Homo sapiens: one gene and its partners. The protein of the gene in region 1 interacts with the protein of each later gene in a biochemical or structural test. Each region holds a gene or a part of one and is shown in the gene's direction. Other genes may lie near its edges.

Region 1 (9,484 bases):
GTCAGTGAGCCCAGGCTGTAGTGGGCGAGGGGAGAGTGGCAGGGCTGAGGTTAGAGAGGGGCAGGATCTGCGTAGTCAGGCCCTTGTACGTTGCATTGCAATTTCTTCTTTCTCCCAAGAGCAAGAGATGGGGCTTTAAGCAGCTGTGGGAAGTGATCTGAGGGACAGTGTTGAAAGATCACTCTGATGGCAGAGTGGAGAGTAAATTAGAGGACAAGAGTGGAAGCAGGGGGACCAGTTAAAGCTGATGGCAGTGGCTCAGGCCAGGTCCATTGGTGCATGGACTAAAGTGTTGGCCGAGAAGATGGAGGGAAATGGACAAATATGACATTATATTTTGGAGGCAGGACAGATGGGACTTCGATAGGATGTGGAAGGGGAAGGGAATGGAAGCATCAAGGGTAACTTCTGGGCCTGTAGTTTTAGTAGTGGGGAGACAGAGAGAGAGCAGCCTCCCGGGGGGTGGATTTGAGCGGGATCTACTTGCGGCATCACCTTACATGTAGGAAGCCCTTCAAATGTGAGCTTGTAGCATTTTCATATGTGTATGCTGCGCCCTGTGACTAAATTATAAGTTCCCTGAAAGCTGAAGGCCATGCTTTAAACTACTTTTTCCAACAGCAATAACTTAGTGCCCTAGCCTTGAAAGATGGTGAATAAATATTAAATTGATGGATAGAAACTGTTCCACTCTTTTTTTGGTATCATCTGTAAGTCCTAATTATTTGAAGTATGCAGTGAAAGGAATTGGGGAAATTTTCATTGTCGTAGGTCATAAATAAATAATGAGGCTTTTCTATTTCCCTTTGCATTTGGAATTATTTAAAATGAGTAAGACGTGGGATTCCATCTGTGCCGTGTCTCCAGGCCAGCTCCCCACTTGCCGATGCCTCCTCTCTCCGCAGATGTGCACTGGGAACTACACCTTTGTTCCTTACATGATAACTCCACATAACAAAGTCTACTGCTGTGACAGCAGCTTCATGAAGGGGTTGACAGAGCTCATGCAACCGAACTTCGAGCTGCTTCTTGGACCCATCTGCTTACCTCTTGTGGATCGTTTTATTCAACTTTTGAAGGTGGCACAAGCAAGTTCTAGGTAAAGTTTAATTAATAATGCCATTTGGTGATGACAATAAAGTGTTATTCTACATCTTTATTTGTGCATGATATCAGGTGCTCCTGAGATATCAGTATACAGCTAAGAACTAGGGGGAAAATGTTTATTATCCTCCAAGTAGATAAAATAGATGCCACATAATACATTTTATTCACAGAACAGCAACTTGAAATCAGCAAAAAATTAAAAAGTCTACTAACCGCTTTATAGTGATGGTAGAACTAAAAATATATACAAAGCAAGTACAGAAACAATACCAGGATAAATGTCCAGGGACTTCTAGTGTAAGGGCAAGAACAATTCAACTTTAATTAACTCTTAACTCTAATTGTTCTTTCAGTGAAGAACAATTATTTATGTTAATAAATGATAGGCTGAGTCAGGAAGTTAAGGTTATATTATGTTCAAATCATAGGTACATCACGGCCAGTGCCGTGGCTCATGCCTGTAATCCCAGCATTTTGGGAGGCCGAGGTGGGCAGATCACTTGAGATCAGGAGTTCGAGACCAGCCTGGCCAACATGCCGAAACCCTGTCTCTACCAAAAATACAAAAATTAGCCAGGTGTGGTGGTGCACACCTGTAATCCCAGCTACTCACAAGGCTGAGGCAAGAGAATTGCTTGAACCCAGGAGATGGAGGTTGCAGTGAGCCAAGATCATGCCAGTATACTCTAGTCTGGGCAACAGAGTGAGACTCTGTCTCAAAAACAAAAACAACAAACAAACAAAAAATCATAGGTACATCTAATTTATTTAGAACAATTTGTACTGGAAACAGTAAAATGGAAAACAAAGTTTTGGCATTTTAAGTGGTTTTTTGCAGGAAAATTTATTAATATGGAGTACCTTTACCTTTAATTCTTTCTGAAGGCAGAGTAATAAAAGAAATACATTGGCTTCTAAATTTCTTAATAATGCCAGATATGTAAGATATTTATTTAGGCATCTGAATGAACTGAAAACTACAAATGCTTTATAGCTAATGCTGCAATATCATTCATGTCTTTATTAAAATTATTGCTTTTCATTGAAATTGTTTCTAATGTCAAACTCTTTGAAATGTGTGTGTTTTTACCAGCCAGTACTTCCGGGAATCTATACTCAATGACATCAGGAAAGCTCGTAATTTATACACTGGTAAAGAATTGGCAGCTGAGTTGGCAAGAATTCGGCAGCGAGTAGATAATATCGAAGTCTTGACAGCAGATATTGTCATAAATCTGTTACTTTCCTACAGAGATATCCAGGTGAGAAGATGTTTAAAGTGAAATCTTTGTTGTGTAGCATGTTGGAGGGATAAGGGAGTATTAACCTCAAATTTCAGTTTGCTGGTAAGCAGTTCATGTTACTACACGTAATTTTTTATTGACTCTCTTAAGCTTTCCATCCTATAATTTTATGATGAATGAAAAAGACTCATGTGAGTTAACCATCAGTGATTGTGAAAGACTTGTATGGTAAAGGCCTGACTTTTTCCTCCAAAAGAACAAAAAGAAAAATCTGCTGGCACAGCGAACCTGTGGACACAGTCTATTCTACTGTTAGCCTCAGGCACACCTGTCAGTGAAAGCTTTGTTTTGGCAAATAGCAGACATTTTTAGAGCTTTCTGGACATACCTTTTATCCCTTGAAATTGTATTGCTTGAAATTGATAGTGCTGAATCTAACTCGCCTGAAGGAAAAAATATGTAATTGATTACCTACAGAAATAACTTTAAAAATATGTAATGTAAAACACACTAACAGGTTATATCATTTTTATTGACATGTCTTAAAATTTTAAAAATAGGGTAAGTGGAATAAAATCCTCTCCAAGTTAGGGATTTGCTCTTAGGTTTTAATAGTAAAATTTAAATGACATCTGGTTTCTCCTTTCCATTCCTAGCCTTTCAGGTCTGTGTAAAGGCTTCATGTGCTCAAGACAGACTCACATCCATGGAGGGCTGTGGCACATAGGATCCTGTGGCTAGAGTGCTTACTCATGTGACATGAAACTGTGTTGCTACTTGTAACAGAAGTTCAACCCATTGCCTCATGTCCTTGACATTTTTATTTCCCTGAAATTGTTAGAACACTGCATACCGGGAATCTGGCTCTATGGGGAAATAAATCACCCATATTTAGACAGTAGAGCACTATCATGCTTGGTGTTTTTGTTTCTTTTGCTTTTTTAGTTTTTGTTCAACATGGTAACTGTATGTTTCTAATGTTTTTATATATACGATCTAAACCTTTTAGAAGAAAAACAACAAAAACTGTTTATTCTAGGTTCTTCAAAGTGTTCTGTGGATTCTAGTGTCTTTTTAATGTGTTTCTTGAATTCAGATATCTGGTTGTCAAAAGACACGTTATTGTGAGAATTTTCTCCTAATGGTTTAATTCTGTGCTATTCTCATCTAATTTGAAAGGACTATGATTCTATTGTGAAGCTGGTAGAGACTTTAGAAAAACTGCCAACCTTTGATTTGGCCTCCCATCACCATGTGAAGTTTCATTATGCATTTGCACTGAATAGGTAAGAAGAAAAAGTTCCCTTCCAGAATGCGTTAACATATTATTGTGTAACCTGCAATTCTTTACAGAGAATGTGTTCACTGCAGCATTGCAAGAAGTCCCTATTAAAATGTAATATTAGCATATCTGCTTCAGCCCCATGAAATATAGGAAGCATGCATTCTCATTTTTTTCTGATTTATTTTTCAGTAAAAAAAAAGTCGCACACTGTTGGTATATTTAAATTCTTACAGGTTTTCTGCTCTGTCAAAGTTTGTATTTGCTATTCATATTTTTTAGAATTGTAAAAGTTACATGAATATGATGTTATCTTTAAGCAAATACACTCAACACCAGATGGTCATTCACACAAAAGTTTTCACTAGAGTAAGGATGGTTATGTCTAGGTGAACATAGTGTTAGATAGTTATTACCAAGGATAAAAAGGAATTTCTTGGACAGAAGATTTGAAGTAGTAATTGAGAATAGAAATGATACCTTTTTTATAATAGCTTTATTGAAACATATTTCACAGGCTGGGCGTGGTGGCTCACTCCTGCAATCCTAGCACTTTGAGAGGCCAAGGTGGTCGGATTGCCTGAGCTCAGGAGTTCGAGAGCAGCCTGGGCAACACGGTGAAACCCCGTCTCTACTAAAATACAAAAAAATTAGCCAGGTGTGGCAGTGTGCACCTGTAGTTCCGGCTACTCGGGAGGCTGAGGCAGGAGAATCGCTTGAACCTGGGAGGCAGAAGTTGCAGTGAGCCAAGATCATGCCACTGCCCTCCAGCCTGGGCAACAGAGCAAGACTCTGTCTCCAAACAAACAAACTAAATATATTTCATCAAAACAATAAATTTTAAAACATTTTCATCACTCCACAAGGAAACCCTGTACCCATTAGCAGCCCCCCTTCCATTTCCCTCCCAAATCCCCCAACTCTAGGCAACCACGAATCTACTTTCAGTCTTTACAGATTTGCCTATTCTGGACATTTCATATAAATGGAATCATACAGTATGTGGTCCCTTGTGACTGACCTCTTTCACTTAGCATAATATTTTCAAGGTCTAAGGAATGATAACTCTTATAGAATTTTTATCTGGTTTTGTGAACTGTCTACACATACTATTTTAAAGCATGCTACATAAAGCAACTTCCTTAGATAATCAGTTAGTCACACGTAGAAATCAAGCAGTTCTTGGGTTTGATTTGATTTTTGGTATCATCTGTGAATGAGTTTGCTAAGTTTTGGAGCAAAAGCCATTGAAACCTAAGGTCAGGGTTTTGTCCCTACTTGGCTTTATTTACTCTACCCTATTCAAAGACACAGACTACAACTCTAATCTCGTTTCACCAACTTGAACCTGCATATAGGCTGCAGGGAAATTGGAAGGATTGTGGATGAGTAAGTACAAATCCATCACCATTATTAACACAGAAACTCAAAAGAAATCCTTGTTAGACCTAGTAGACATACAATGGGATAAAACAAAAAATTAGGCTTAGGACAGAGGTTTACAGAGGACTCTCAAAATCTAATTGTTTCTGTCCTGGCAAATTTCTCTAATATGAATCAACATGTTAAATAGGGTTTTTAAAAAAGAATTGATCTATATTGCTTCTGTAATGTATATTGAAACAACAATGTTTTCTGCCTTAGGAGAAATCTCCCTGGTGACAGAGCAAAAGCTCTTGATATTATGATTCCCATGGTGCAAAGCGAAGGACAAGTTGCTTCAGATATGTATTGCCTAGTTGGTCGAATCTACAAAGATATGTTTTTGGACTCTAATTTCACGGACACTGAAAGCAGAGACCATGGAGCTTCTTGGTAAGTAAATAGTATATAAATGAGCTACTTACTTAGTAAATCCATGGCATAAAAAAGTATTTGCAAATGAGAGTGTTAAAGTATTATTATAATCCATAAGATTGTGTATTATGAACTAAACCTTAGATTTTATTTTATTTTATTTTATTTTTGAGATGGAGTCTTGTTCTGTTGCCCAGGCTGGAGTGCAGTCATGTGATCTTAGCTCACTGCAACCTCTGCCTCCCAGGTTCAAGCGATTCTCCTGCCTCAGCCTCTCCAGTAACTGGGATTACAGGTGCCCGCCACCACGCCCACTAATTTTTACATTTTTAGGAGAGACGGGTTTTGCCCTGTTGGCCAGGCTGGTCTTGAATTCCTGACCTCAGGTGATCCAACTGCCTCTGCCTCCTCAAGTGCTGGGATTACAGGCGTGAGCCACCGGGCCAATCTTAGAGTTTATAACTTTAGTAAATAATTTGATGAAATTCATTTAACATAGTATAGTAAATTGGGATAAATAGATGAAAAGATAATTTAAGAAATATAATTTTAAAAAGATATTTTAAATAAGTAATATAAATAATAAAATATAATTTTGTAGAAAAATTTATATAAAGACAGTTTAAAAGACCTGAATGAAAGGAAAAAATATACCGAGTTTGTAGATGAGAAGGCTTGATATTTTAAAGATTTTAATTCCCCCCAGCAGGGGTTTTCATGTGATTTGACAAACCAATTCCAAAATTTATTTGAAAGAATAAAGGACTGAGAATAGGCAAAGCAATTCTGGAAAAGCACAAGGTGGAAGGACTTGCTCCACCAGTTAACAAGACTCATTATAAAGCTGTAATGATTAAGATATTGCAGTATGGCTATAGGCATAGACAAACAAAGCACTGGAATACAAGAGACAGCCTGGAACAGACTAAGATATACATGAGTCTAGATTTATGGCAGAATCAGCTTCATGAGCTGTAAAGGAAAGGATGGAATCTGTAGTAATGATACTGGGAAAATTTCTTTATCTGCTTGGAAAAATAAAATAAAGTTCTATCCCCATTTTAAGCCATGCACAAAAAAATGAAATCTAAGTGAGTTAAATACCAAAATATGAAAAAATACTTTAGAAAAATATTTTTAGAATAAAGTGTACAAATTATGTATGACTATTGGATAAGCAAAGATTTCTTTCTTTTTTTTTTGAGACAAGGTCTTGCTCCGTCACTCAGGCTGTAGTGTAGTGGTGCAATCTCGGCCCACTGCCACCTCCACCTCCTGAGCTCAAGTGATCTTCCCACCTCAGCCTCCTGAGTAGCTGGGACCACAGGTGTGTGCCACCACGCCTGGCTAATTGTTTGTATTTTTGGTAGAGAGAGGGTTTCACCATGTTGCCCTGACTGGGGCAAAGATTTCTTAAACAAGGCTTAAAAACGCCATATACCATAAAAGATAAGACTGGGAAAATGGTCTACATGAAAATTGGCTTCTGCTCATCAAAGTAGTAGCTTTTGGAAACAGCAGAGTAGATTCTATTGTGCTTATCTTCCTGTTGATAACAATTATAAATGTTGGAAAAAAGTTGGAAAGCACTGAAGAGTGATTAAAAGTAGCTAGAAACTGGAAAGGTTTTCATCCTTGGATGAAGGGCACCGCATAGGATAAACTCCACATTTAAATGGCTTTTCCCTCAAGACATTCCCTGGTCTGCAGGGAGCAGGACAGATAGAACTCTAGCAGGAAATCACAGTCTTATTGGCCTGAGAGTGAGTTTGAGGCTGCCGGAGGACCTGGACATTGAGTGGGATAAGCCTTTGTGTGAACAAGGTGAACCACCAATAATTTATTTACCTTTTATTAAAAAACTACATACTCTTAAGAGGAGGAGAACAAATCCAAACTCTCTACAGCTTATCATCCAAAATGTCTAATACACCATAAAAATTACTAAGCAACCTGGGTGTGGTGGCATGTTCCCATTGTTCCAGCTACTCAGGAGGCTGAGGTGCGAAGATGGCTTGAGCCTAGGAGTTCAAGACCTGCCTGGACAATATAAAAATACCTTGTCTTATTAAAAAAAAGAAAAAAAGAAAAAAAAGAAAGAAAAACTCTCAACTACTAAAGTGGTGAAGAAATAGGAAAGTGTGATTCATAATTAAGAAAAAAATTATTCATAGAAATAAACCCATAGATAAAACAGAGTTTAGAATTACCAGACAAGGACATAAAAATAACAATGATAATTATATCAAAGAATCTACTTGAAAAGATGAACATAATGGGTGAAAATATGAGGAATTATAGGAGATATTTGGAAACTGGAAATAACCAAATGGGAGTTCTAGAACTGAAAAGTACAATATCTGAAGTTGAAATGTCATCAAATCAGATTAACAGCAGATAGGACACAATACGATAAAAGAGCAATAAACTTCAAAACAGATTATTAGAAATCATTGAAATTGAAGCAGAGGAAAGAAAGAGATGAAGTCATTAATAATTCCAATGACCTGTGGCATTTAGTGGTCTAAATACTTTTTTTTTTTTTTTTGAGACGAATCTTGCTCTGTTGCCCAGGCTGGAGTTCAGTGGTGCAATCTCACCTCACTGCAACCTCTGCCTCCGGGGTTCAAGCGATTCTCGTGCCTCAACCTCCCAAGTAGCTGGGATTACAGGCATGCCCCACCATGCCCAGCTACTTTTTGTATTTTTAGTTGAGTCCGGGTTTCCCCATGTTGTCCAGGCTGGTGTCAAACTCCTGACCTCAAGTGATCCACCTGCCTCGGCCTCCTGAAGTGCTGGGATTACAGGTGTGAGCCACCGTGCCCAGCCTTGAGTGGTCCAGATACTTTTAATTAGAGTCCCAGGAGAGGAGAGATATACTGTTGCAGGGATAATAGTTGAAGAATTAGTGGTCAAATATTATCCAAATCTGTTCAAACAAACAAACAAATAAAAAACAGCTCACAGATCTAGGAAGCTCAGCAAAACCCAAGGAGCATAAATATCAAAGAAAATTATCTCTTGGCACATCATAGTAAAATTGGTGAAAAACAGAAATACAAGAAAAGGTCATAAATGCAGCCTAAGAAAGAAGATACATCAGGGGAAAGAGTGAGTGCTGAAGGAAGCCAAAAGATAATGGAATAACATTAAAGTGCTGAAAGAAAAAAACCCAATCAAGCAAGAACTCTATATCCACTGATAATGTCTTTAAAATATGGGGGTGAAGTAAAGACAATTCTAGATACATCAAAACTGAGATAATTTGTTGCCAGCAGAACTTCACTACAAGAAATGTTAAAGTCTTTAGGCTGAAGGGAAATAAAACCAAATGGATCTATAGGAAAAAGCATATAGCACTGGAAATGATAAATATATGAATAAATATAAAAGATACCATCAACAAAGAAATCACAGGGAACAATGCATGTAACCAATATAGGATATGTATTCAGTATATATAAATAACTCCTCAAAATATCTTTAAGAAAAAGAGATTAAAAAATGCATAGGATATGAACAGGTTATTCACAAAAATGGAATCACAAATGGCCAATAAACATATTTTTGAAACTTATAAAAAGATTATTTTTATACTACTTTACACTATTCAGATTAACCAAAATTTATAAATCTGACAATATCAATTGTTAGCCAGGATGTTAGAGAAATGTGAGTCCTAATGCCTGCTGGTTGTGCCATAAATTTCTATACGCACTTAAAAGATTTTGGCATTATTGAGGAAAGTTGAGAACTTGCCTCCCCTAGGTCCAGCAGATTTATATACCCTAGAGTAAATCTTAGACATTTCTCTACATTAAAGTTTTAACATAAAAAAAAACTTTAAAAAAGTTGAGCAAAGTAAGCAAGTGGCAGAAGGATACAGAGTACAGTATCATTTATAGAATGTTTAAAAACAGTCATAGAGATTTAGTATAAGTATAGATGCACGGATGGGCATCATAAACTCCAAATTCAGTATAATGGTTACCAGTAGGGAGGAAGAAGTAGAAAGAGATCCTGGAGTGATTCACATGCAATTTCAAGTATATTA
Region 2 (5,650 bases), on another chromosome or scaffold:
TTTAAAAAAATAAGTAGGAGTACACTCTAAATTAATAATGAAATTAAAGTAAATACAAAAACCAGTAACGTGGGTGTTTATTATCAAGTAGTATATACTGTCCATAATTGTAGTGATATGCTTTTTTAAGTGAAAGCAAGTTTATTAAGAAAGTAAAGGAACAAAAGAATGGCTATTCCGCAGGTAAAGCAGTCTGTAGTGGTATACTTTGTATGTAATTGCAGCGCAGATTTGTTTGCACCAGCTAATGCGATGGGCTATGACATTAACCCATCACTAGGTGAGAGGAATTTTTCAACTTCATTATAATCTTATGGGACCACCACATATATGCAATCTGTTGTCGATCTAAATGTTATATGGTGCATTACTATAGGTGTGCAAAGCACTCGAGGACTTCCGTATGACAGAGCTCCTCCTTCATGTCTGCTTGGTGCACCCTGATCACCCTGAATGTATCTTTTTTTTTTTTTTTTTTGAGACAGAGTCTCACTCTGTCACCCAGGCTGGAGTGCAGTGGTACCATCTCTGCTCACTGCAACCTCCACCTCCCGGGTTCAAGCGATTCTTCTGCCTCAGCCTCCTGAGTAGCTGGGACTACAGGCAGCCGCTACCACACCAGGCTAAATTTCAACTTTTTAGTAGAGACAGCATTTTGCCATGTTGGCCAGGCTGGTCTCGAACTCCTCACCTCAAGTGATCCACCCGTCTTGGCCTCCCAAAGTGCTGGGATTAGAGGCATGAGCTACCGTGCCTGGCCTGAAAGTGTCTTTTAAAACCTTGAAGTGACCCTCTGACAAACTGAGGAACTTTAACTTTGCCTCCATAGATTGATAGAAAAGTATGAGTAGTAGCCCTTTTGAAAATGATAGACCAACCTTATTTCTCTGACAGCCAACAGGGTTATGATACTTATTTTATAAATGGTAACCTCCCTCTGACCCTTACTTGGAGTGAGTTTTCAATAGTATGCATTCAATAAACATTCACCATTTTTATTCCAGCCATTACTGTCCTTGTGCCTCTTACTGGAACCTGTACTTTCATGCTCAGCAGGTGTCCAGCATTAAAAGAAAAAGTAAAGATTACCTAGAAAGAACTCCTCAACAGTAGTGCCACCCACCATCCTAGAGGTCGTCATAGTGTTTGTAGCTGGCCTTTCTTCCCCTTGAGAATTCTCCGTTGGTTTCCGTGATTTGGTTATCAACAGTCCTGCCTGCTCGCTTGCTGTCCTGTGTAGCTTTTGCTGCTTAGGTGCTGAGTGGTTCTATATTTCTTTCCCAGTCCTCTTTTGAGTGCCTGGCTGACATTTTCAATCTCTATTGGGCTCCAAACCAAACCAGTTTCGTGGTATTGTCCTCCAAACCTTGCCCTCTTATAGCATGAACAATGTGTTGAGCATGGGGTATTATAAGAGTTCTCATTTAGCATTCCACAGTTGAGGAATGTGTGTTACTTCAATTACCTTTGAGCTGTAGAAAAATCTTTAGCTGTGGTAACAGCCACTTCTAGGAGAGGAGAAAATACGGATCAACTAGCCCAATTTGCGATGTTAGGAATTTGTCGATTTTCTTAGTAGGATGGCTTTCAAAGGTTAGAGCATCAGAGTCACCTGAAGCCCGACTTTAACTGTAATGGTTTAAGATGGGGTTGATGGGGAAACTTGTAGTACCCCTCAGGTAATTCTGATACTGCAGCAAGGTTTGAGAATTCACAAAGTCTTTTTATTTTTCCTCCCGAGATAGTCTCATTCTGTCGCCCAGGCTGGAATACAGTGGCATGATCTCAGCTCACTGCAACCTCCGCCTCCCAGGTTCAAGCAATTGTCCTGTCTCAACCTCCTGAGTAGCTGGGATGACAGATGTGTGCCACCACACCTGGCTAATTTTTGTATTTTTAGTAGAGATGGGGTTTCTCCGTGTTAGCCAGGCTAGTCTCGAACTCCTGACCTCAGGTGACCCACCGGCCTTGGCCTCACAAATCAGTTTTTAATTAAAAATAAGCAGGAGGCTGAGTGTGGTGGCTCACACCTGTAATCCTAGCACTTTGGGAGCCCGAGGAAGGTGGATCACTTGAGCTCATGAGTTTGAGACCAGCCTGGGCAACATGGAGAGACCTTGTCCCTATAAAAAAAAAAAAAAAAAAATATATATATATATATATATATATATATATATATATAGTGTGTGTGTGTGTGTATATATATACACACACACACACAAAATTAGCCAGGTGTGGTGGCGTGTGCCTGTAGTCCCAGCTACTGGGGAGGCTGAGGAGGGAGGATGGCTTGAGTCTGGGAAGTGGAGATTGCAGTGAGCTGAGACTATGCCCCTGCATTCCATCCAGCCTGGGTGACACAGCCAGACCCTGTCTCAAAAATAATAATAATCAGTAAACCCAGTGTGGGGTTATTCCTTTAGATTACTATTATTTTGTTCTTGAACAATTGATTTTTATTTTTTTAGACTTTTTAGCCTTTATATAATCATTCTGTGTACTCTGCCTTCATAATAAAACTGGAAAAATTATGAGCAAGAAATAAGAGGTACTAGTTCTGAGGAATAGTTAAGATTATCATACTGAGTCCAATTGTAGCAGAATTTTTTGTTGCTTCTTTGTATGATACTTAAAATAGTTGAAAATTTGATTGGATTAAAGAGCATATTGGATCGCTGGAGTATCTGATGCTAGTAACATTCTGAACATTCTGCCTGTTAATGTGCCCGTCAAAGGAAGTAAATATTAATAAAACTTCTTCATTGAGAATATAACCGGTTTGGCTTTTGTAATGCCATTATATTCATTATATTAATTTTCATATGCTGAAAAATGTCCTCATGCGGAAATGTGGGGTACATGACAGGGAAAAGTTTCTGGTTTTGGATTACTTCTGTCAAAGCTCAGTACTCGCAGTCTTGTATTTAATCCTCTCCCTTTGCTACTTTCCCTACCAGGATGTTGCTTCAGAGTGTGAAGTCAAATGCATGCCAACATTCCAGTTTTTTAAGAAGGGACAAAAGGTACGTACATCTGACCTTTAAAACTCTAACTGGGCAATAGGAAACCCAGTATAAGTGAATAAATCACTGGAGTGATGTTCCCTTTAAAGATTGAGGCATATCACCAAGTTCTGCTTTTAAGAATTTTTAAATATGCCAAAATTCATTGGCTTAAGTACATAATGTGACAGCTAACTGAAAATCAATCTTTCCTAGAACTAGTCCTATTTATATCATAAAGCACATAGAATTTCTTAGACTTGGGCAGTTCATTTGTTGTTAAGTATTGTGTAAAAGAAAATTTGTACTTGAGCCTTTTGACTTTTCTCTTGATATTTTTTCTTTGTTTATAACTTAAATGAACTGTATGTTATTCAGGGAAGTTTACTTTAAATAAGATTATACTTCTTTTTCCCTCCACCCCTATTCTTCCTTCATTCTATGCTGAATACATATTTATACATATGTATATATATACATATGTATATGTATATATATAAATACATATTTATACATATTTTATGTATAAAACAGTGCTACAGTGCTACGTCTAATGTCAATTCAATATTCTCTTAACAGGTGGGTGAATTTTCTGGAGCCAATAAGGAAAAGCTTGAAGCCACCATTAATGAATTAGTCTAATCATGTTTTCTGAAAATATAACCAGCCATTGGCTATTTAAAACTTGTAATTTTTTTAATTTACAAAAATATAAAATATGAAGACATAAACCCAGTTGCCATCTGCGTGACAATAAAACATTAATGCTAACACTTTTTAAAACCGTCTCATGTCTGAATAGCTTTCAAAATAAATGTGAAATGGTCATTTAATGTATTTTCCTATATTCTCAATCACTTTTTAGTAACCTTGTAGGCCACTGATTATTTTAAGATTTTAAAAATTATTATTGCTACCTTAATGTATTGCTACAAAAATCTCTTGTTGGGGGCAATGCAGGTAATAAAGTAGTATGTTGTTATTTGTTATCTTTTGACAGAGAAAATAGCATTCTCTGTTTTAGCAGGTGAATCCTCTATGCTCTCCAAAAGATCAGCATGACCAAAATTGATGTCCACTCATGAAGGACTTGTTCGTTTTGTTTGTTTGTTTTGCCACGAGGATCGGATCTTGATTCTCCTCGAAGTATCTGAGAAAGTCTAGTTGTATAGGCCAGACATAGGTTCTGTCTTGAGTGGTAAAAGTTGTGGGAAATTATTACTTATATCATTCAAAGAACATTGTTTCTTGTGTTCTAAGCACAGTAAGGGGTTGGGGGTTTGAAGAAACTTTTTGAGTTTACATAATAATGAAGAGCAGAATTATCATATGCCAGGTATCATCTTTCTATTAATTCACTTAATCTTTGTAACAATCCTATTAGATATAGACACTATAATCCCCATTTACCTGTGAGGAAACAGACAAAGGGTGGTAATTTCCCCAGCATCACAACTAGTCATTGGAGGAGCTGGGATTTGAACCAAAGAAGTCTGGTACCAGAATATGTGCCTTTAACTACTACATTGCCCTCAGTGCAACAATCTGAGTAAGCAGGAAAATGATGGGCCCTTAGTTGAGTTTCTTTCCTCATGTGAAATTAGGATGCCAAACTTAGATGATCTCTCAAAATACTAATGGAATGCCTGTTATGTGCCAGGCATCATGCTAGGCTTGGGATAAAGCTGTGACTAAGACACCCTCATCCTCATACAGCTTACATTCTAGAAGCAGAGACAAACAGGTGAATAATAGACTGGTATATTCTACAAGGCAAAACCAAAAACTGGGCGCAGTAATGAGAAGAATAGGGGAACCAGCTGTGCATCAGGTGGTTGGACCTGGGTTCTTTGAGGTGACTGTAAACAGAGCTGTTGGATAAAAAGTACTCCAACCTGCTGAGAGCCAGGGAATCAGCTTTCAAGCAGAGAGAATGACAGACACAAAGGCTTGAGTCAAGAAAGAGCTTGGTACCTTGTAGAATCATCAGAGGAGCATGAAATAAAGCTCGATAGAGTGGCAGGGCCAGGTCAGCCAGGGCGTTATTTGTTCTAGAACGGATGAGAAACCATCGAAGGGTAAGTCAGGGTACATGCTTTGTTAACAAGTTATTTTGGCACCTGTATAGAAAACGGAAACTAAAAAGTGGAAAACCAGTTAGGCTTTTTTGTTTGTTTTTTGAGATGGAGTTTCGCTCTTGTCAGCCAGGCTGGAGTGCAATGGCGCAATCTCAGCTCACTGCAACCTCCGCCTCCCAGGGTCAAGCCATTCTCCTGCCTCAGCCTCCTGAGTAGCTGGGATTACAGGCACCCGCCACCATGCCCAGCTAATTTTTGTATTTTTAGTAGAGATGAGGTTTCACCATGTTGACCAAGATGGTCTCGAACTCCTGACCTCAGGTGATCCACCCACCTCAGCCTCCCAAAGTGCTGGGATTACAGGCGTGAGCCACTGTGCCCGGCCCCAGTTAGGCTTTTGCAATTACCTAGATCAGAGATAATGATAGCTGTGACTAGGAGGACAGTGGGGAAGTGACAGAGATGGAACAAAGCCTAAGGGCCTGTGAGAGGAAGACCCAGGAGTGAATCTCAGGTTTCTGGCAGAAGCCCTGGGTGTCGGGGTATGATGTGATGTCATGAGTGAGGTGA
Region 3 (9,452 bases), on another chromosome or scaffold:
GGGGAAAACCTAAAAATCTCCTTATTGAGTAGAGAAATAATAGTTCAGAAGAGGCAGTCCATGCTTTGATGTATTAAAGAGATGGCATTTAGTTACTTTGTATTTGGTAAACATTCGCTCATTCATTCAATTCAGTTTAATATATGTGTAATATATTGTGATATGCATGTATATACATATGTATGTGTGTATATATATGCATGTATATGTATGTATTGTGTGTGTATGTGTGCACATGATTTAGGGACACACAAAAATATTTAAAATGAAGTTTTTCCTTCGGGTTGGTGAAAACAAGAATGTAAGGAAATCATTATAATACAAGATAATAGGACAGGTATTGAAGAGAAATGGTGCTATTGGAGTTTAAAAATGGAAGTGATTTATCTATTTGGGGGATAGTCAGGAAGGTTTATGAAGAGGGTGGTGTTTACTGTGATCTTATCTTTGGACTTTAGGGTCTAAACTAAATCAGGCTCCTTTTTGCATATTTTTGGGCTCACTATGAACGTGGCTCCCTCTTAGTAGAGCCAGTTTTTGAGTTGAGAAGCCAAAGGAGATATTAGCACTGCACTCTTCCCTATGGATGTGTTTACAATGGATCAGGTACTGGTGGTCCTTCAAATCAATTCCCATTTACCCAGATGAGTTTTCTTAATTGGATTCTGCTTGGAAAGTACATCTGGAATGAACATGGGGTTCTTGTCCGAAAGGAAAATTATTGGTAGAAAGAAGTGGGTGATCATTTTAGAAATGGCAAAAGAGCCAGCCGCCTTGGCCTGGACTTTAAATGTGGAATTGGCCTTATTCAGCTACGCTATTCTCAAATGGCCAAAATACTTTTTGCAGTACCAAACTTCTTTTTTAATATTCTAACCCAAGAAATGGGAGGAAAAGTGAAAAGTGGATACAATCTCATAGTATTGAAGAATTTAACAATATGTTCAATTCAAGGACCTTTACGAACTTTCTAGATCACTATAATTCGGTTTAACAGACCTCTAATTTAAGGCACAGCAGAGGCAAAGGAATTACAGACTCTCTGGAAGCTGGAAGGACTGGGTTACTGCTCTACAGCCTTACCAACAGTGAGATTCCGAGAAAGAATTTCTTAAAAAGAAATTTTGTTTTCCACAGTTGTAACTTTAGGTGGTATGCTTTTCAGCTTGTTTATATTAGCTGTCTGGGGTTGAGTTGACATTTTTCAAATATTAAAGCAGTAGAATGCCTTTTGAGGAAATCTGAAATGTAAGTTAACAGGAAGGGCACCCAGAAAGTGCAGGAATTCCTGCACACTACAGGAAGACAAGCTACAGGAAAAATGTGTCATCTACACTACCCGGGAGAGAAAAACTATTGTTATCAGCCATAATGATCTCCGGAGGGAGGGAGAGAAAGAGGGAGGTAGGGAGATCTGGCATCCCCCAGTTCACCTGAAAATACACAAAAAGTTTGACCCTGTTAAAATACACTTTTCTCACTTCTCCTCCTATTCACCTTTAAAAAATATTAGTTTATTTTAGTTTTAGAGAGCAATAAGTAAATCATGTAAGAAATGCCTATGAGGCACAATTCAGAAGCATATAGCAGAGTGGTAGGAAAGGTCTTAACTCTACTGGGGTTCTTTGCTTCTGTAATTCATTCCACCCTTGGGAAATGAAATGTGTAAATTTCTTGTTCTCTATAAATTCCTTTGTTAGGTTGTACCAGACGGACTTGTCATGCTTAGCCTGTAATCTGAGCCAGTATGTTTTATAACCCCGTACATCTCAGGACACAAAATCAGAATAGGTAGCTTGGGTTTCCTGAGCTTGCTTTGTATTAGCATTGCATTCAGTTCTTTAGAGCATGCGGCCTGTTAACTGTAGGGGGCTTCAGGGGTCTCTGGTTGGTAAATTTAATGTTGGAGAAAAGAGTTGAGATTCTCTTGTCTTTGTTTTTCAGATTAGTGTTACTTTAATGACTCCCCAGTATTTTAAAATCTGAAAGATCTACAAGGAATATTTTTAAAACTTAAAAGAAATTTCATAAATAACCCTTGTTCATTATAGAAACATTTCATAGAAAAGGAAAAATAAGAATGACTAGTTACTGCAGTCTACACTTTGGCATTTATTCTCTTGGACTTTTTTTTTCTATCTATGTGTATGAAGCATCCAAAATGTGTGTAAAACTAAGTCTATTTCGTTCCCTCTTGTTTCACTTACCAATATATGGCAAAATATTCCCAAGTTTATATATTTCTACATTCATAGTATCCTCTTCCATTGTATTTATTTAAATAGAATCTTAATGTTTATTAACTTTCACTATTGTGAATATTTCCGTGATGATCATACCAGTTCCTACATTATCATGCATACTATGCCCTTAGATTAAATTCCAGGGAGCAAAACCACAGGCTTTGAATGTCCAGTTCTTCTTCACTCTCCATTCTCTTTTCTTCCTTCTGAAAATAGCTTTTTATTATTGCAAAAAAAAAATGACATATGCTAATCAAAAAATTCAAACCAAAGATAAATTCACAATAAGAATATAAAACTCACTCAAAGTCATACCACCCAGAGCTAATTACTGTTAGTTTTTTGGGTACTATCTCCATATTTGTATGTACATGTTATTTTACACACTATATATTGTATTTTGTAACTTGCTTTTTTATACTCTACCATATATCTTGGATATCTTTCTGTAGTAGTACACATAAGGTTACCTATTTTTTAACAACCGTGAATTTTAATTTGTAAGAATGTAGCCATTTACTTAATGTCATATTGAGTTTTCAAACAGTTTCCATTTTTTTGCACAGCTATACACAGTACTGTAAGGAATACCTGGAACATACATCTTTATACATTTGCCCAATTATTTCTTTAGGATGATTCCTAGAGGTGGAAGTCCTGGGTCAAAGGGCATGTATAGATATATTGCTAAATTGCCCTTCATAGAGGTAACACTAATTCTCATTTCTACCAATAATATTTAGACGTGCCCATTCTGTCCTTTCAAGCATAATGGTACATATTGCCAAGTAAATTGCTCTTCAGGAAGATGGTACCTTTCTTCATCCTGGGTATAACAATTTGAAAAAATCTTTGGCAGTTTGATGAAAGCTATTAATATTCTACTCTAATATTATTAGTGATAAGGCAGTTGCATTTTTCAGTTTTTTTGACATTTGTGTTTCATGTGCCCAAATTTCTTTTTTTCTCATGAAATATATCCTTAAAATTTTAATTTGGGTGGCCAGGCATGGTGGCTCATGCCTGTAACCCCACTTTGGGAGGCCGAGGCAAGTGGATCACCTGAGGTCAGGAGTTCAAGACCAGCCTGGCCAACATAGTGAAACCCTGCCTCCACTAAAAATACAAAAATTAGTCAGGCGTGGTGGTGCACACCTGTAATCCCAGCTTCTTGGGAGAATCGCTTGAACCTGGGAGGTGGAGGTTGCAATGAGCAGAGATTGTGCCACTGCACTGTAGCCTGGGTGACAGAGCCAGACTTCATCTCAAAAAAAAAAAAAAATTAATTAATTTGGGGATCAAATTATTTTCAAAGTTAGCCAGAAAATAGCAATATTGTAGAGGTTAGGTAATCCTGGATTGATAGTTGGGTTCTGTGTATCTAAACAATTTAATTCCTTGATGAGTTCTAATTTTAATTTTAACCTAATGTCTTAAGCTGCTATCACATATTTTATAAACTCATTTTATTTATATAGTCTATAGCTATCCAGACCTATATGAAAATAATAAGAAAAATGTAGTGATCTGATTAAATTCCAGTCTGAGAAATAGCTTACTTTTGGGCATTCCTGCATTTTCAGTTATCTTTTCAGGCAAAATTAGTTTTTCTTTAGGTTTATAAATAATTCTTACATAGCACCTGGTTGTGTTATATGCATTGTTGCAGAGAAATTTAATCTAATTTTTTTTAGCTTCCTGTGCAATGCCTAATCACAAAAGGTGGTTGACTTAAATTTCCTACATTTGTTAAAATAATTAAGTCTAGAATCTTTAAGATTCTTGTTAAGAATCAATTTTAATGACCTCACAAGTCATATAAGTCAATCAGATTTAACATATCCTTAACATAGCCTTAATAAATGCGCCTATTTATGCATCCTGATATTAAGTGATAGAATTTAGAGCTATGAAAGTTTTATAGTCCAATCACTTCATTTTACACATAAGCTAACTGAGGCCTTGGAAGTGAGTGACTTTCCTGAAGACAGTAGAGTGGAGTCACAGGGAGAAGTCAGATCTACAGATTCTCTGTCCGTAAGTTCTTTTCACTAAACCACACGTGAACACTAATAATCCACATTTATAAAATTTTTTTTTCTTCAGAATCTTTAGTATATTTCACATTTTTAGCTTTGCTTGTTTTTGTTGGGAGCAGTCTGGCAAGGGGGAGCTGATGGTATAATGAGCAGGGGTTATTTTTCTGTGTCCAAGAAATGGTGACATGTGAATCATGGTGGTGGGGTTTCTTACCAGTTCTCTGCCAAAGGATATTTTGCAAATGCTCTCATTTTGATTCCCAGTGCCTACATAGTACAGCTGCAAGTTTTAACCACTGTAATGGTTGTTTGCCTTTTATGGACTGTCTTGTTTGAAAGCCCTTGCTGGGTAACTAAACCTTTTCTTATATATCTTTACATCTCTGACTCTTATAGCATTGTCCTTATAAATAATAGGTGCTCAAAAAATGTCTGACAATGAAAGTATTTTTCATCAGTAGGGATAAGCTCTCATTTGCTCCTAAGTTTTATGAAAGATTTCGGGTAATTAAATTACAATGCAATTTTCTTCTTGTGCTTCTTCTTTGTTTGCACTGATATTCCCATTATGTATTTGCTTAATTATTTGGAAGTTGCAAGAACAGCATGAAAAGCAACTTATAATGGCTGGCGAAGTGTCATTTCTCCTACCTAAGCCTTCTGAACAGATTTAAAGGTTGCACAATTCTCTGCTAACTTTCTTTTTAAAAAATATGAGAAGATGAATTGTCCGAAGAATCCCATCCAATAGAATTGAAGTGATTTCTGCATCCTGTGCTGGTTTTAGGAGCTGGTTTTTAAGTCTATGAGGCTTCTGAAGGATTGTCAGAGACAATCCTTTTTTTGTTGTTGTTTTTTGTTTTTTTTTTTTGAGACAGAGTCTCGCTCTGTCACCCAGGCTGGAGTGCAGTGGTGCGATCTCAGCTTACTGCAACCTCCGCCTCCTGGGTTCACGCCATTCTCCTGCCTCAGCCTCCGGAGTAGCTGGGATTACAGGTGCCTGCCGCCACCATGCCCGGCTAATTTTTTTTGTATTTTTAGTAGAGATGGGATTTCACCGTGTTAGCCAGGATGGTCTCGATCTCCTGACCTCGTGATCCACCCGCCTCGGCCTCCCAAAGTGCTGGGATTACAGGTGTGAGCCACCACGCCCGGCCCAGAGACAGTGTTTTTAACAGCTGGCTGCCCTCTAACAAAACAGGGAACTTCGCAAGGATCACCTCCCAGTGAAATGATTCTTCACTTCCTCCTTGACCACCTCCACTGCCTCTGCCCAGCCCCTTCCTCCCTGGCTTGTACCCCACTCTGTCTCCTTTGATGGTCTTCCTGAGTTGGCCCATGCGGTTCAGTATGTAGTCCATAATCTCCCTCTTTCTGAGTTGAGGAGGATATTCAGGTTATAATCCCCATACAATGAAGTCTATCAGAAATCATCGTAATTTTTTTTTTTTTTTTTTTTTTTTTGAGATGGGGTCTTGCTCTGTCACCCAGACTGGAGTGCAGTGGTGCAACCTCAGCTCACTGAAACCTCTGATTCCCAGTTTCAAGCAATTCTCCTGCCTCAGCCTCCCGAGTAGCTGGGATTACAGGTGCCTGCCACCATACCAGGCTAATTTTTGTATTTTTAGTAGAGACAGGGATTCATCATGTTGGCCAGGCTGGTCTCAAACTCCTGACCTCAGGTGATCCACCCACCTCGGCCTCCCGAAGCACTGGGATTACAGGTATGAGCCACCACGCCTGGCCAAATCATCGTAATTTAGTCAACTCCAGTCTGAGTTGAAGCATTAAATAAGCATTTGCAGCATCCCTGTCATCTGTTTTACTTTCTGGTCTGTACATCCCTTCTTAAGTCAGATTCTTGAGATTAGTCTTCTTTGGACAGACCATTAGCCCCAGGTGGAGCTGCTGATCACAACCCCTCCCTGTACCACTCCCAAGGCTGTTGTCATCATCACTTACCCTAAGCCAGTTACTTTTCATATAGTATGCTTTAGGATGTCCCATAAACACTATGGACAAAGTTGGTGTTATTATCCTTAATTTACGAGTGAGGAAATCAATTGTTGTTAACCAATTTGCCCATGGCTGGATAGCGAGTCAGTGGCAGAGGCAGGATGGATGTCTGACTGGTGGGCCTGTGCAGCAAACTGCAGCTCCTGGGCCAAATCTAGCTTCAGCTGTTGTTTTTGTTTGTTTGTTTGTTTGTTTGTTTGAGATGGAGTTGCGCTCTTGTTGCCCAACTGGGAGTGCAATGGCGCGATCTTGGCTCACTGCAATCGCCACCTCCTGGGTTCAAGCGATCCTCCTGCCTCAGCCTCCCGAGTAGCTGGGATTACAGGTGTGCACCACCACGCCCAGCTAATTTTTTGTATTTTTAGTAGAGACGGGGTTTCACCATGTTGGCCAGGATGATCTCGATCTCTTGACCTTGTGATCCGTCCTCCTCGGCCTCCCAAAGTGCTGGGATTACAGGCGTGAGCCATCGTGCCCGGCCAAGCCTCAGCTGTTTTTAAGTATAGCCCGTGAGCGAAGATGGTTTTCCCATTTTTAAATGATTGAAAAAAAATCAAAATCAATGTTTCATGACACATGAAAATGATACGAAATTCAAATTCAGCATCGACAAACAAAGTTTTATTGGAACACAGCTATGGTCATTCATTTATATGTTTTCCATGGCTGCTCTTTGCTCGACAGCTGTCGAGTTGAGTAGTTGCGCCAGAGCCCCTATGTCCCACAAAGCCAAAAATATTTGCTATCTGGTCCCTTGCAGAAAATGTTTGTTGACCCTTTCCTTTATGACTTTATTCCATCGAATACTGGGGTCTCTTCATGACAGAGCTCCCAGAAACATTCCTCTCTGGCTTTAATTGGAAGTTGTTAACCTGGATAACTACTGCTCTGCTGCTCAGCCAGAGACCTCTTGGGCCCAGCCCACAGGAAACGTCTGAGTGGTGTCTCTCCTAGTTATAAGAATTGTAGGTCATTGCTCATTTCCTCTGAACTAAGTTACCCGTCTCCTTTTGCCCGTCCTGGGGTCTTTTCCCCTTAGTTGTGTTCTTCCTGTTTGCTTTATATTTCTTTCCTTTTTTTCTTCCCTTCGATGAGAAGCTGCTTATTAATTCTTCCCTGAGACTCTTCATCCTCCCCTTATTGATCCCACATTTCTTTAGAAAGTATTAGGTTGGTGCAAAAGTAATATTGTTTTTTATCATCACTTTTCATGGCAAAAACCACAATTACTTTTGCACCGACGTAAGAAATCAAAAATAACTCTCCTGCTACCACCATTGCCTGGCTTGTTGGTTATCATCATGACCCAGCTCAGAGGTTCCATCATTTCTTTTGTGTCAACGTGAAAGCCTCCCTGCATGGGACCAGAGAGGTTTCCAGTTATCATCTCCTGCAAAGTTTAGAGCTGTTTTCTTACATTAACCCCCTAACCCCGGGTGGGCAATTTTCTTTTGAGGACGAATATTCTTTGTGCTCACAGAGTCGCTTACATCGTGGATATTGGGTATATTTAGGAGAGAAGGTTTTGATAGAGGGTCTGAAAATGAAGGGAGGTGAAAGCTACATGTAGACAGAGGAGCTTTGGTAGAATGAGCCCAGATTTGTTCACCACATCCAGAATGATGTAAATTTAAGTCACGTACAAAGAAGTGCTAATTTCTACCATCCCAGATGGTATCACTGCTGTGATTCTTTCTGTGCTCCAGATACTGTGCTTAGTGATGAATGTGAATTCTATCATTTACTCTCACTATGGATCAGTGAGGTGATATCCCATTTTGTAGATCAGCAAACTGAGGCCGGAGAGGTTAAGAACTTGCCTCAGTTACCAAACCGATAGTGGCAGAGCAGAGGTTTTAGCCAAGGTCTGTCTGACCTCAGAATCTGAGCTCCTGGCGACTCCACTTGAGACGTCACTCCAAAATAAAGGTATGAAATCCATTACACCAAAGACATGGTCGAAGAATGAAAAACGAGTGTATTCTGTAGGAATTTGGATAGATTTGGGCATACCAGGGCCAAGTATGGTAATTAAGAAGGGCTGACCTGTGTCTAGCTATTTATAGGTTCTTTTTGACATGTCCCTTTATATGTCTTTTGATCACAGAGTACAGAGTCTGACTCATTTTGACTCTTAAGGTTGAGTTCCAAATAGAAACTGCCCATTGGTTGAAGGAGGCTGATTACAATTGGCCCACTGATAGTTACTGGTCTGGATATACAGGAATGTTATGTTAAAATGTAGGTAACAAATATTGCTTCCATTTGCTGTTCTGTAGGTTGTATCACACAGAAACTAAGCCGACTCAAACCTTGTGTGTTTCCTTACACATCTAAGTTAAATTGTATTAAAACTAACAAGAACGTGGCCAGTGTGGCAGCATACCTAAGTGTGGGGATTTTGCAGCCCCTTTTTGGCTTAGTGACTTTTTTTCTTCCTGGTTGTTTCTATGTAAATGTAACAATTTCCTTGAAATGATGAATGAACCCACATCTCCAGTGTTTTCCTCTTGTACTGGACAGAGTGGAGGAAACTGGAATTGCCTGTTTTTGTGGCAGAGGAGGTAGATGGGGATGGAAATGAATTTCCTTTTAAAGCAATGAATTCTTTTTTTTTTTGTTTTTTTCTGAGATGGCGTATAGCTCTGTCACCCAGGCTGGAGTACAGTGGTGCTATCTCAGCTCACTGCAACCTCCGCCTCCCGGGTTCAAGTGATTCTCCTGCCTCAGCCTCCCAAGTAGCTGGGATTACAGGCGCCCACCACCACACCCAGCTACTTTTTGTATTTTTAGTAGAGATGGGGCTTCACTGTGTTGGCCAGGCTGGTGTTGAACTCCTGACCTCATGATTCGCCCGCCTCGGCCTCCCAAAGTTCTGGGCTTACAAGCATGAGCCACCGCACCCGGCCTAAACCAATGAATTCTTTCTCGGCTTTCTCTCCAGCCAAAGCAGAACAGCTATACCTATGCCTCAGTTGTTTTTCATGATCCCATGTCGAAGCTGCGGAAATAGATGGTCTGGTTGTTGAGTGACAAGTTATTTATTCCCTTCCTTTATTCTCCCTCCTCCAATTTCAAATGGGATGAGAGGAGATAGCTGTAAGCGTAGGGCTAGAATCTGAAGAATCAGTGGGAACAGAATAGTTCAGAGTAT

Evidence for each region. Proteins that work in one complex are often made in the same cells at the same time.
Region 2: the proteins of MAP3K5 (region 1) and TXN form a complex in vitro, tested with the Homo sapiens proteins (3 studies listed by BioGRID).
Region 3: of the proteins of MAP3K5 (region 1) and MAP2K6, one has a biochemical effect on the other in vitro, tested with the Homo sapiens proteins (8 studies listed by BioGRID, with this or other methods).

What each region holds. Positions count from the first base shown.
Region 1 is NC_000006.12:136,690,104-136,699,587, reverse strand, and holds part of MAP3K5 (mitogen-activated protein kinase kinase kinase 5), read left to right. Parts: intron 1-905; coding exon 906-1,099; intron 1,100-2,200; coding exon 2,201-2,369; intron 2,370-3,530; coding exon 3,531-3,637; intron 3,638-5,277; coding exon 5,278-5,448; intron 5,449-9,484. UniProt on the Homo sapiens protein: Serine/threonine kinase which acts as an essential component of the MAP kinase signal transduction pathway. Plays an important role in the cascades of cellular responses evoked by changes in the environment.
Region 2 is NC_000009.12:110,242,151-110,247,800, reverse strand, and holds the end of TXN (thioredoxin), read left to right. Parts: intron 1-2,957; coding exon 2,958-3,023; intron 3,024-3,581; coding exon 3,582-3,644; 3' UTR 3,645-3,991; downstream 3,992-5,650. UniProt on the Homo sapiens protein: Participates in various redox reactions through the reversible oxidation of its active center dithiol to a disulfide and catalyzes dithiol-disulfide exchange reactions.
Region 3 is NC_000017.11:69,416,404-69,425,855, forward strand, and holds part of MAP2K6 (dual specificity mitogen-activated protein kinase kinase 6), read left to right. Parts: intron 1-9,452. UniProt on the Homo sapiens protein: Dual specificity protein kinase which acts as an essential component of the MAP kinase signal transduction pathway.